Homo sapiens: one gene and its partner. Each later gene encodes a partner of the first gene's protein in a complex. Each region holds a gene or a part of one and is shown on either strand. Other genes may lie near its edges. A codon is read from its position in the direction of its gene.

What was found.
Region 2: the proteins of H2AC13 (region 1) and BRPF1 are in contact, whole or in part, in a crystal structure (PDB 4QYL), measured with the Homo sapiens proteins. Residues at the interface, in NP_003500.1 of Homo sapiens: Ser2 (codon at 4,167), Gly3 (codon at 4,170), Arg4 (codon at 4,173), Gly5 (codon at 4,176), Lys6 (codon at 4,179), Gln7 (codon at 4,182), Gly8 (codon at 4,185), Gly9 (codon at 4,188), Lys10 (codon at 4,191), Ala11 (codon at 4,194); in NP_004625.2 of Homo sapiens: Ile652, Phe653, Val657, Val662, Asp664, Tyr665, His668, Cys704, Lys706, Tyr707, Asn708, Ala709, Asp711, Thr712, Ile713, Phe714, Arg716.

Annotation. Positions count from the first base shown.
Region 1 is NC_000006.12:27,804,047-27,809,316, forward strand, and holds H2AC13 (histone H2A type 1), read left to right. Parts: upstream 1-4,126; 5' UTR 4,127-4,163; coding exon 4,164-4,556; 3' UTR 4,557-4,621; downstream 4,622-5,270. Other genes in the region: H2BC13 (histone H2B type 1-L), read right to left, coding at 3,480-3,860. UniProt on the Homo sapiens protein: Core component of nucleosome. Nucleosomes wrap and compact DNA into chromatin, limiting DNA accessibility to the cellular machineries which require DNA as a template.
Region 2 is NC_000003.12:9,741,635-9,748,631, forward strand, and holds the end of BRPF1 (peregrin), read left to right. Parts: intron 1-390; coding exon 391-537; intron 538-717; exon of another isoform or gene 718-907; intron 908-1,309; coding exon 1,310-1,619; intron 1,620-1,943; coding exon 1,944-2,267; intron 2,268-2,589; coding exon 2,590-2,874; intron 2,875-3,373; coding exon 3,374-3,521; intron 3,522-3,938; coding exon 3,939-4,075; coding exon of another isoform or gene 4,076-4,177; coding exon 4,178-4,296; intron 4,297-4,665; coding exon 4,666-4,820; intron 4,821-5,531; coding exon 5,532-5,715; 3' UTR 5,716-6,381; downstream 6,382-6,997. UniProt on the Homo sapiens protein: Scaffold subunit of various histone acetyltransferase (HAT) complexes, such as the MOZ/MORF and HBO1 complexes, which have a histone H3 acetyltransferase activity.

The DNA of each region.
Region 1 (5,270 bases):
TATTTGGAGGGTAACCATTCAGATCATAGTAGTACCAGTATCCAAAACTGCCACCAAATAGTTTGTTGTAAGTTAAGATAATTGCAGAGCATCACTTAACTTGAAAAGCATTTTCTAAAATGTCCAAATATTAGACACAGTTGAATATCCCATAGATATATATCTATTCAGTGTGCAATTTTGATTCATTGGCTTATTTAGTTATATATTGTGACGGTAACAATGCTCTATTTGGGCCGGGCGCCGTGGCTCACGCCTGTAATCCCAGCACTTTGGGAGGCTGAGGCGGGCAGATCACCTGAGGTCAGGAGTTCAAGACCAGCCTGGCCAACATGACGAAACCCTGTCTCTACTAAAAGTACAAAAATTAGCCGGGCGTGGTGGGGCGTGCCTGTAATCACAGCTACTCAGGAGGCTGAGGCAGGAGAATTGCTTGAACCCCGCGGAGCTTGCAATGAACCCAGATCACGCTATTGCACTCCAGCCTGGGCAACAAGAGTGAGACTCCGTCTCAAAAAAACAAAACAAAACAAAAAACAATGCTCTATTTGACATATCTCTTTTTAACTGGTGACAAATACTTGTAAGAGTCTAAAAGAGACTAATAGTACTTTCTTTTGCTTTTTCTCCCACATGGTCTGACCAACAAAGAAAACTCTATGACTGCTAGATTAACAAATAACTTCAGAGTCTGCTCATTTAAATAAATGTTATTTAAGTAACATTTAAATAAATAGTGTTAAATTGGCATCTGGAATTATGTGTAAAATATTTCAGAATCTCACTTAGTAAGTCCTTCTCAGATTATATCTAGTTGTTTTATCCTGAAGTCCTCATTTTGAGAAGCCTGCCGTGATACAGAAGGAGGCCACTGGTGTAGCATAGTCACAGACTACTTGCTCAGCCCCGTGGGTGCTCCCTTCTGCCTACCCCTGACTTTAGCCACACCACAATATTTCTGCGTTTTTGAAGGTGACACCCATTTTCTTATTGCCCAGAATGCTATTTGGCACTCTTCCCACTCCCACCCATAATATTATTTATTCTGTGCTCCTTAGGCTTTTTATTCATATCTCTACTGCAGCATTTATCATCTTATAATGTGTGTTTTACTGATAATCAAGTGAAGTGATTCTTTACGCTATTTTTTTTTATGGATGGACAATACACACATAGGATTCAAAATTCAAAGACCATAAGAAGTTACAATGAAAAGATCCTCCATCCATCCCTGTCTGTAGGACATCCAACTTTCTCTTTCCTCAGAGGCCACCACTGATAGCAATTTATCCAGTATCCTTCCAAAAATATTTTACATTTATACACACACACAAACACACACAAAATTCTACTGCACATTATCCTGTATCTTGCTTTTATTGCATTTGACAGCAAATTTTGGAAATCATCCCATTATTAGCACCTGGAGAAGCCGTATAGTATACACTGGTTATAAATAGGGATTCTGAAACCAGATTCTGGTTTTGAATCATGTTTTCACTACTCATTACCTGTTACCAACCTAAGTAACAAACATAGAGGCTCTCTAAAGACAAATACATTTATTTGGGAATAAAGCATTGTAATGGGAATCCATATGCTATAAAGTACATGTGTATTCAAGGAGGTAAAGGAAGACAAAGGTTTTTAAAGAAAAAAATAAGGAGGGTTACAATAACAAGGGCGATGCCAGTCCAAGGTTGGGAAGGCAGTTGTTGGACAAATGGTCTTGTAGAAGTATTTTTTGTGTGTGTAAGGTTTTGATGGCCTGTGTTTATGGTTGTGGCTCTTACCATCTTTTGTGATAGTTTTTGTTATTAGGCATACAAGCGTGAGAACTTTCTCTTTATGGCTTTTCTTGGCTCTGTGTCAGGATTTTCTTAACATTAGTGATTTCATTTTGATTGACAACTTTCCCACTGTACAATTTCACACTTTAGGCAATTTACTCGAGCTCTCTGAACCCCCATTTTATGATCTGTAAAACAGGTATAAAAATAGTAATTTTTCACAAAGTTGTTATGAAAGCTAAATGATTTAACATATGTAGAGAGCTTTTTAGGACATTATCTGGCACATGATAAGCAGTAAATAATTATGAAAAAGAGCCTTCTTATTTTTTACTAGATAGAATGATGTACTGTAATTTATTGCTAATCAGTCAAATTGCTTCAGTCTTATACTACAAACAGTGCTGCTGGAAACCCCTGCATATATTATTTTGCATATTTTCAAAAATAGTAAATTCCTAGGGGTGAAATTTCTGATGTAAAGATAGGTGCATTTTAAAATTTTGACAGGTATTACCAAATTTTCCTTTATGAAAGCACTACCAATTTGTGGGGCCACCAGCAATGATTGAGAATTAAGGTCTGGGAGGCTTATTCAGGATTTTCCATTCCTATAGCAGAATACTATGACTGGCCTATGGTGAATAGTAGATGCTTAATAAATGTTAGTAAATTGGATGGTAAATAGTATACGAAAAACAGTTGGGTTTGGGTGAAAACAAGAAAAACTTTTAAAAATCTACTCTGGCATCTTTTGCTAGCAGGCATTGACAATTAGGAGAAGGCAAGGTGTTAACTTTTACTGATCTCCCACTTTTTTTTTTGAGACAAGGCCTGGCTTTATCACCCAGGCTGGAGTGCAGTGGTGCGATCTCAGCTCACTGTAAACTCCGCCTACCAGGCTCAAGCCATCCTCCTACATCAGCCCCCTAAGTAGCTGGGACAACAGGGGCGCGCCACCACTCCTGGCTAATTTTTGTGCTTTTTGCAGAGACGGGGTTTTGCTATGTTGCCCAGGCTGGTTGCGAACTCCTGGGCTCAAGGGATCCGCCCGCCTCCACCTCCCAAAGTGCTGGGATTACAGGCATGAGCCACCGCGCCCACCCCTCTAGTTTCCAGTTTAGTCGGAAAGATTAAAAACGCCAGCCTTGTTTTCCTAGTGCTGTTTTTGGTTTTTACCTCGGGTCTTTTGTCGTGCCTTAAAATCATGTCTGGTTGCGCAAGTGAGGGAAAGGATTGGGTAAAGGGGGCGCCACCGCAAGTTGCTGTGCAACATCCAGACATCACCAGACCCACCACCTGGAGCCTGGCCTGGCGGTGTCAAACGCATTCTGGTCTCATCTTTTTAGAAACCCGTGGATGCTCAAGGAATTTCCGGATAACGTGATCCCGGATGCGCTTGACTGACTTACACGGAACGAGCAAAGCGCAAAGCAGTCCCTGCTAAGGACTTAGTTTATGCCCTCAAGCGCAAAGGTCGGACCCTCTATGGTGTTGGTAGCTATATGCACGTACCTCATGTACATTTCACCTTAAATGGCTTTCAAAGAGCTAGATTAATTTAGTGGATAGATCAAAATGATTTATGACCCCTCGCCCCCCAGTGATAGGAAGAGCGAACCAGCTCTTCTTTAGATAATAGTGAGTGGCTCTGAAAAGAGCCTTTGGGTTGGACAAGAGCTTGAGAATTTACTTGGAGCTGGTGTACTTGGTGACGGCCTTGGTGCCCTCCGACACCGCGTGCTTGGCCAGCTCCCCCGGAAGCAGCAGGCGCACGGCGGTCTGGATCTCCCTGGAGGTGATGGTCGAGCGCTTGTTGTAGTGCGCCAGGCGGGAAGCCTCGCTTGCGATGCGCTCGAAGATGTCGTTGACGAAGGAGTTCATGATTCCCATGGCCTTAGAAGAGATGCCGGTGTCGGGGTGGACCTGCTTCAGCACCTTGTACACGTACACGGAGTAGCTCTCCTTGCGGCTGCGCTTGCGCTTCTTGCCATCCTTCTTCTGGGCCTTGGTCACCGCCTTCTTGGAGCCCTTCTTCGGGGCGGGAGCAGACTTGGCCAGCTCGGGCATAATGAAACAATAGTGGCAAAACCAAAACAAGAAGTCGGTCTCCTCTTTTTATATAATAGTTTATGCGGCCGAGGTAGTGGGAAGGTCTCTGCTGATTGGTAATTATCCGTGGATGACGACAGATGCCAGTTTTGCCCAATCAAAATAGGTATCCTGCATAATCGAGTCCTATTGGTCTAAATAAAAATAAAACGTAAGCCAATCGCACAGCTTCCTTTTCGCGCCCAGTAGAGGCTATAAAATGTACGTTTTTCTAGTTTCACTTCAGTCTTTCTTGACCGTATAGATAATAGGCCTTTTGCCATGTCTGGGCGTGGCAAGCAGGGAGGCAAAGCTCGCGCCAAGGCCAAGACCCGCTCTTCTCGGGCCGGGCTTCAGTTTCCCGTAGGCCGAGTGCATCGCCTGCTCCGCAAAGGCAACTATGCGGAGCGGGTCGGTGCTGGAGCGCCGGTGTACCTGGCGGCGGTGCTGGAGTACCTGACCGCCGAGATCCTGGAGCTGGCTGGCAACGCGGCCCGCGACAACAAGAAGACTCGCATCATCCCGCGTCACCTCCAGCTGGCCATCCGCAACGATGAGGAGCTCAACAAGCTTCTGGGCAAAGTCACCATCGCACAGGGTGGCGTCCTGCCCAACATCCAGGCCGTGCTACTGCCCAAGAAGACCGAGAGCCACCACAAGGCGAAGGGCAAGTAGAAGCCTGGATTAGTTTGCAGCAACTCAATCCCAAAGGAACCAAAGGCTCTTTTCAGAGCCACCTACAATTTTGTGGAAGAACTGAGCACTATGTTTAATGTAATTTCTCGTCTTTGCCTACTTCTAAACCACTCCAAAGGTTACGTAGATCAGTCTTCGGTGTCTTGGTTAGGTAGTGACAATCTCGTTAGCTTTATAAAAAGCCTGGATAACATTAAAAGTATTAAACACGCCTTCATCTTAAGCTTAGTGGAAGAAAATTTAGTTTTTCCTAAGCTGGCATTATCCAAGTATGTTGAATTCTGTATGGTTCACCGTCGGGTTTTACTTTTAGTCTGTTGAAGCAAACATGTCTGCTTTGGGGCCAGATGTTTTCTGGGTCTTGGTAAATAACAAACCGGGCATTCGACGTTCAATCCAAATCTAGATCAACGACTTGGATTCTTCATTTCTGAGAAATATCTCTCGAATCTGTATAATTAATTGCATTTGAACATTAATGATTGAGTTGAGAATAATTATTAGACTAATTAGAACAGTTACTTATGGTGCCAGGTAGTTCTCTTTGAAGCATTTTCTGAAAATTCATTGAAATTAAAATTTCCCGAGCTTTCCCACCCCCAGCCACACAAATTGATTTCTTAGTACAGAGATGACTTAATTTGTTTCAGCATGGTAAATTCCACTTTTAAAATATCTGACTTGATGTTTTTA
Region 2 (6,997 bases), on another chromosome or scaffold:
TCAAAAAAAAAAAAAAAAAAAAGACCCAGGAGAAGGAATAGCGTGTGTACCCCAGCCAGATAGCAGCAGGGCTGACGCTGGAGTCAGGTCTCCTGGTGCTCGGTGTGCTTTTAGTTCTGCTGGAAGCAGAATGTCACAGGAGCGTATGAACAGAATCCTCAGTTATGTGACATAGGTAGCTGGTGCTGGTAGTTCAAGAAAGGGGGAAGCCAGAATTGTTGGTGCAAGTTTCCCTGGGTGGAGCCTCATAGAAGGTAGACCTGTATGAGTACACCCAGCTGTGAGGGTGGGAAAGAAGGCGGGTTCCCAGGCCAGCTGGGACCATATCCTCAGACCTCTTTGCCACTGAACTGGCCGAGGCCTGGCTGATCAGGCCTTTTTCTATGTTAGATCAAGGTTCAGCAGATTGCCATGGAGATGCAGCTGACTCCTTTCCTCATCCTCCTTCGCAAAACCTTGGAGCAGCTCCAAGAGAAGGACACAGGCAACATCTTCAGCGAGCCGGTCCCTCTGTCTGAGGTAACCGAATTGGACGAAGTAAGAATCCCTTCCCCTCACTCCACCTTCTCTCTGTTCCTCTCCCAGTTGGACCCCTGCTGCAGGTCTGGGCCAGGACTAGATGGGGACCTTGAAGAGAGGGGCTGGTGGCTCTGGGGCAGGATGAACTGGAGCCACATGTATCACCTGGACTCTGTCTTGTCCCTGTCACACCCCAAGGGCCCAGAATGGGAGGCAGTCTGCACTCCTTCCCCAGAGGCAGGGACTGAGTCTGCCAAATGAATAATCCCAGGGCAGGAAGACACTTTCGGGGTGCTGAACCCTAGAACGGAGACTTTAGAAGGCTCAGCACCTAAAGAACCAGCTCTGAAGCCCTAGGTCCTGACTGGCAGACTCTTCTCTCTAAAAGGTATAAAATGAGAGGCCTGAGGCAGCAGCCTCCTTATAAGTTACTGTTAAGTAAAAAGAGCTGTAGGAATGCAAGGTGGTGTTTATTTTCAGAGGAGTCCCCAAGCCATTTTCTTACTAAAGCCTCATATAGTCTAGAAAGTATATTTGGCTCTACTTTCATCATTTTCCAGGAGAGGAAAAGTAGGCCCAGAGAGGTTAAGAGACTTGCCAAAGTCACACAGCTTGTGACTGGTAAAGTCAGGACCAGAATCCAGCTTTCCTTTCCCCTGTGCTATATGCCTGCCTCTAACTGTGGTGGGAGGAGGTTGCTGGATGTGTTTCAGGGGGGCTTGTTAGGAGCAGGGTTCGGGGCAATAAGGAGGATATCTCCACTTAAAACAAACCTGCCCTGCCCTTCCAGGTACCTGACTACCTAGACCACATCAAAAAGCCCATGGACTTTTTCACCATGAAGCAGAACTTGGAGGCTTACCGCTACCTGAATTTTGATGATTTTGAGGAGGACTTCAACCTCATCGTCAGCAACTGCCTCAAGTATAACGCCAAGGACACCATCTTCTACCGGGCAGCAGTGCGGCTTCGTGAGCAGGGTGGTGCTGTGCTCCGCCAGGCCCGGCGCCAGGCAGAAAAAATGGGCATTGACTTTGAGACGGGCATGCATATCCCCCACAGCCTGGCTGGAGATGAGGCCACACACCACACTGAAGATGGTGGGTGATATATCACACACACATATAAGAGGCCAATGCCGGGGATGGACAGCTTTCCAAAAGTCCCCTCCTGGGAGCAGGCAGTGTAGGCAGAAAGCAGCTAGGCTGAGCAGTGGCAAGCTATCCCCAGGAATGCTCCCCAAGAAGCCAGACTGGGTGAATGGATAGCAGTGCCCGCCATTCCACATCTTGGTGCTGCTATTTTACAGCTGTTCCTGGTGAGAAGCCCAGGGGGGATGAGTGGGTTTCTTGCTGCCTGCCCAGGTTCAAGGGGCCCTGAGGGCTGCCCTGAGTCTGACCTTTCCCCTCCAACCCTACCCCTAGCAGCCGAGGAAGAGCGGCTGGTCTTGCTGGAGAACCAGAAGCACCTGCCAGTGGAAGAACAGCTAAAGCTGCTTCTGGAGCGGCTGGACGAAGTGAATGCCAGCAAGCAGAGTGTGGGCCGCTCACGGCGTGCAAAGATGATCAAGAAAGAGATGACGGCACTGCGGCGGAAGCTTGCCCATCAGCGAGAGACGGGACGTGATGGCCCTGAGCGGCATGGCCCCTCGAGCCGGGGTAGTCTGACACCCCACCCGGCAGCCTGTGACAAGGATGGGCAGACAGATAGTGCGGCAGAGGAGAGCAGCAGCCAGGAGACAAGCAAAGGTCTGAATCCCATGGCAAGGTGGACCCCAAAGCAAGTCAGACTTTGGCTCTGCAGCACACACTCAACCCCTGCCATTCCCCAGGCAGAGGTCCCTCCTACACAGCTAGCTGTACTTTCTCCCTCATTCCCCAATCAGGGGCCTCTTAGCTGCCTCTCTGGCTATTTGTATAAGAGTTAATCTTCCAAATTCCAAGCCCCTAAAATGATCTCCCCAACGTTAGCTGGAGTAATGGTCCTATATGCCCAGGGCATGACCCTGGATATCTACCCTTCTCAAATCAGGCCCCTCACCAACTCTCCTTCTTTCTTTCTCTGCTCCAGGCCTGGGTCCCAACATGTCCTCAACCCCCGCACATGAGGTGGGCAGGAGAACCTCAGTTCTGTTCTCCAAAAAGAACCCGAAGACAGCTGGACCGCCCAAGAGGCCGGGCCGGCCCCCCAAAAACCGGGAGAGCCAGATGACCCCCAGCCACGGAGGCAGTCCTGTGGGGCCCCCCCAGCTCCCCATCATGAGTTCCCTGCGTCAGCGCAAGCGGGGTAGGAGCCCCCGGCCCAGTTCGAGCTCAGACAGCGACAGTGATAAGTCCACAGAAGACCCCCCAATGGGTGAGCCTTACCATCACCCAGCCCCCCAAGAGAGTGAGCAAAGCTGCCATTCTTCCCAGCATACTCCCAGTTACCCCTTTATTTGCCCATAAAAGAGCGAGCTAGAAGGGTCCTTAGGAATCCTTTAACTCCACTCACTCATCTTACAGTTGGGAAAACTGAGGCCCAGAGACACTACGACCCAGCTAAAGTCCCATCCAGGGCCCCCTGCCTCCATTGTATCACTTTACCTTTTCTCTTCTCACCTTCCTTGGGGATCTCCTGCCCTTTAAGCCATTTGTGTCCTAAAGCCAGTAACTGCCGAGGGAAGCAAGGGGTGGAGCAGGGCTGTGGCCAACTGTGGTAGACACTGCCCAGAGCTAGCTCTGCTGGCCAAGGTTGGAGGAATTTTCCAGCACAGAAGGGGAACCCAAGCTCCAAGTCCCTCTTACCTCCATGTCATCTCTGATCTACATCTTCCTGACCGGTTCCTTCCCTCCTCCCCTTCCCTTCAACCAAGACTTACCAGCCAATGGCTTCAGCGGTGGAAACCAACCAGTGAAGAAGAGTTTCTTGGTATACCGTAATGACTGCAGCCTTCCCCGGAGCAGCTCAGACTCTGAGTCCAGCAGCAGTAGCAGTAGCAGCGCTGCTTCAGACCGGACCAGGTACCAGCCCTCCAGATCGAGGCCAACCTCAGGGGATGCCCTTCCAGGGCTCTTGGGCCTGTGTAGGTTTCCCTGTTGGAAGTGGGGTGGCAGCCATCTCAGTCTAGATTAAGATGGCTCAAACTCAAGGTTCTCTGCTAAATAAATAAATCAGTGTTACCATTAATAGAACAGAGAGAACCATCCTGGATTAAGGTGATGATTAGAGTATGCACTCCTGCCGCCACTGCTCAGGCTAACCCACCTCTGTTAGGTCATCAGCCTAGCCCCTGTGGGTGTTTGAATTTGAAATTCCTCATATAGCCTCTGCTTTCCAAAAGTCTCAGACCCTGCGGGCTTTAAGAGCTGAGGGCACATACCATGCTGTTCCCCATTCTTCCCCTCCTTTGAGCTGAGCTCCCATTGTCTTGTCCACAGCACAACGCCCTCAAAACAAGGCCGGGGCAAACCCTCCTTCTCTCGGGGCACTTTCCCAGAGGACAGCAGTGAGGATACCTCAGGCACTGAGAATGAGGCCTACTCCGTGGGCACTGGCCGCGGCGTGGGCCACAGCAGTAAGTTCCCTTGCCCAAGGCCAGGGATGCTGGGGACCCAGTGTCAGGGTCTCGCCAGCCCCCCAGCTGCTGATCCACCCCCTCTCCCCCATTCCTGTGAAGTGGTAAGGAAGAGTCTGGGCCGGGGAGCTGGCTGGCTGTCAGAGGATGAGGACTCCCCGCTGGATGCTCTGGACCTCGTGTGGGCCAAATGCCGAGGCTATCCATCATACCCAGCTCTGGTATGCTTGCTTCTGTTACACTTCTTGCTTTCCAATCCCAGAATACAGATTCACAGTTAGCAGACTTTTCCTACTCCCTGCTGAGCTGTGGGGCACAGAGTTTCTTGGTAAGGTAGACTGGTGGGCAGATACAGCTTGAGTACCACTTAGAGGCTCCCACTCAGTTTCTCCATCTCTCCCTTTTGCTTCTCTTTGCTCCTTGGGCTCTGAAATAATTTAGCATGGAAAGAAGCTGAGGGTCAGCATTGCAGTTCTAGTAGCATGATACCCTCTCTGTCCCCACTTCAGACATACTCTCTAAGTTCTTGAGGAGGAAAAGCCTTGGGAGGACATGGACTGAACCAAACTGGGCTCTTATTATATCCTCAGATCATTGATCCAAAGATGCCCCGAGAAGGTATGTTCCACCATGGGGTTCCCATCCCTGTGCCCCCACTGGAGGTGCTGAAACTTGGGGAGCAGATGACCCAGGAAGCCCGAGAGCATCTCTACCTCGTCCTCTTCTTTGACAACAAACGAACCTGGTAAGGAGGGGAGCATTTGGTGTGACTCACAGCCACAGATGCAGCCCTGTGTGGTATGGGGGCAGACTGCCAGGAAACTCCAGCAACAGGCAGACTGGGCTATCACAAGTCAGTGGGGGAGGGACTTAGAACAGTTTTTTGAGCGAAAGGGTTGTGTCGACCATGTGTCTGAGAGGCTGAGTGGGCACTAGTGGACACAGCTATAGCTAGAAACCAAAGGACCATCAGAGACTTATGACAAATATAGAGGTGGCTCCCACCCAGACTCAGATGGCTTCTAGACTTAGTTTTCCCACCTCTGCCTCCACAGTGACAAAATGAGGATAAAGCAGGCATAAACATTCAGGCTCTGAATCCCTGTTCTGTCACATTTACACATGTAGTCTTTTTGTTAATTGTCTGCAGAGGATATTCAATGTCAGTAAAGTCTGCCTAGAGCCTATGGCACAGGGTAGCTATTTCTGGTGAGGTCAGGGTGCCTCCTTTTTGTACCCATAAATACCCTGTGATTACCCTCCCGCCGCCACCACACAGTATAACTGTTGACTGGGCTCTTTCATCTCTAGACCATGAACAGTCCTTTGAGGGCAGGGACCATCACAGAGTCTGGCCAGAGTGGGTGCTTGGGTGGTGTGTTTGAGTGAATAGAGGAGGAAGGCTGGTCCTTGTTCTCCCTGAGATGATTTATTTGATCTTCACCTTATCCTATAGGCAGTGGCTGCCCAGGACCAAGCTGGTTCCTCTGGGTGTGAACCAGGACCTAGACAAGGAGAAGATGCTGGAGGGCCGCAAGTCCAACATCCGCAAGTCAGTACAGATCGCCTACCACAGGGCTCTGCAGCACCGCAGCAAGGTGCAAGGCGAGCAGAGCAGTGAGACCAGCGATAGTGATTGATACTGCTCAACACAGCCCAACCTATAGTGCCCTGTGACTTCTCTCCTCCCCTTTGCTCACTGTCCTGGAGTGGCACCGGCCTCTGCACTGACTCATTTCTGGTCTTGGGGCCAGTCTCAGGGGAAGCTGGGTGGGGGAGGTCCCTCCTGCCCTAAGTGCAGCTGGACTGTACAGAACACTCCAAGGGCCAATGGCAGTTCAGCGCAAGGAGAGGGAGGGCCCACAGGTCAGAAAAAGCTCCAGAGACCTCACAGCATTGTAGGGCGGGGTGGTGGGCCAAAGTTAGGACACTGCGTAAAACAGGCCATCCCACCACCTCTACCTGCTCATGCCAGGAGAATCCATAACTGCCTAGAGGCCTGGGGCCCCTACCGGTCGTGAGGTGAGTGGGCATCTGTCCAGCCTGGAAGAGGGGCACTAGGTGACTCCCTCCCCTGCTGTTGTAAATACTGTAATTATCGGAGAATTTAAATTATTCTCATTTGTAACTGCGTTTCCGGGTCGCGCCAGAGTCATTTGGTACTAAAAAAAAAAAAAAAAAAGACTGGGGGCTGTCCCCATTTCCCTTCTCTTTCCCATAGATTCCCCCACCTTTCAAACTGGTTTGTATTTATTTCAAAGGAAGAAAATATATTGATTCTTAGAAAATAAACTGTCAATTTAGAATTCTTTGTTCTTGCCCCCTGCCAGGGCAAAGGGGATACAAAGGGAGGTTCTGTGCCCCAGGGATGATACATAATTGGGCCCAAGTGGTTGCTGACTGCTGTGCATGCTACATTTCATAAGACACAGCAAAGAGAGCCCCTGTTGCCCATGCATGGAGTGAGTGGCAGGCCCTGTGTTGAGCACCTTTAGACATTCAGCTTTGCGTAATCCTTGCAATAACTATAGGGTAGTTTAATAATAGACTGGTTATCTCCACAAAGATGCTGAAGTTTCAAAAAATTATCTTGCCTAAGTTCCTACAACTAGGAAGGTGCAGAGCTAGAATTGGAACCCAGGTCTGTTTGCAAACCTGGCTCTTCAACCAGTATGCTGAACTGCCAGGGGAAGAGTCAACTATCGATTCCTACTTGGCCCTTAGAGGCCTCAAGTCCTTTGCCAGTGGCATGGCCCAAGTGTTTCAGCATCAATACAGCTGAGACCTTCCCCACTGCTTAACCGGAGACAGAGCTGGGATGGAGACGGTTGCTCTTTGCTCACCCCCAACCTCAGCACCTTCTTTCCAGACTCCACCGACATTTATTGAAGGAATGCCTTCCAAGTGCTAGGCGCCTGTGGG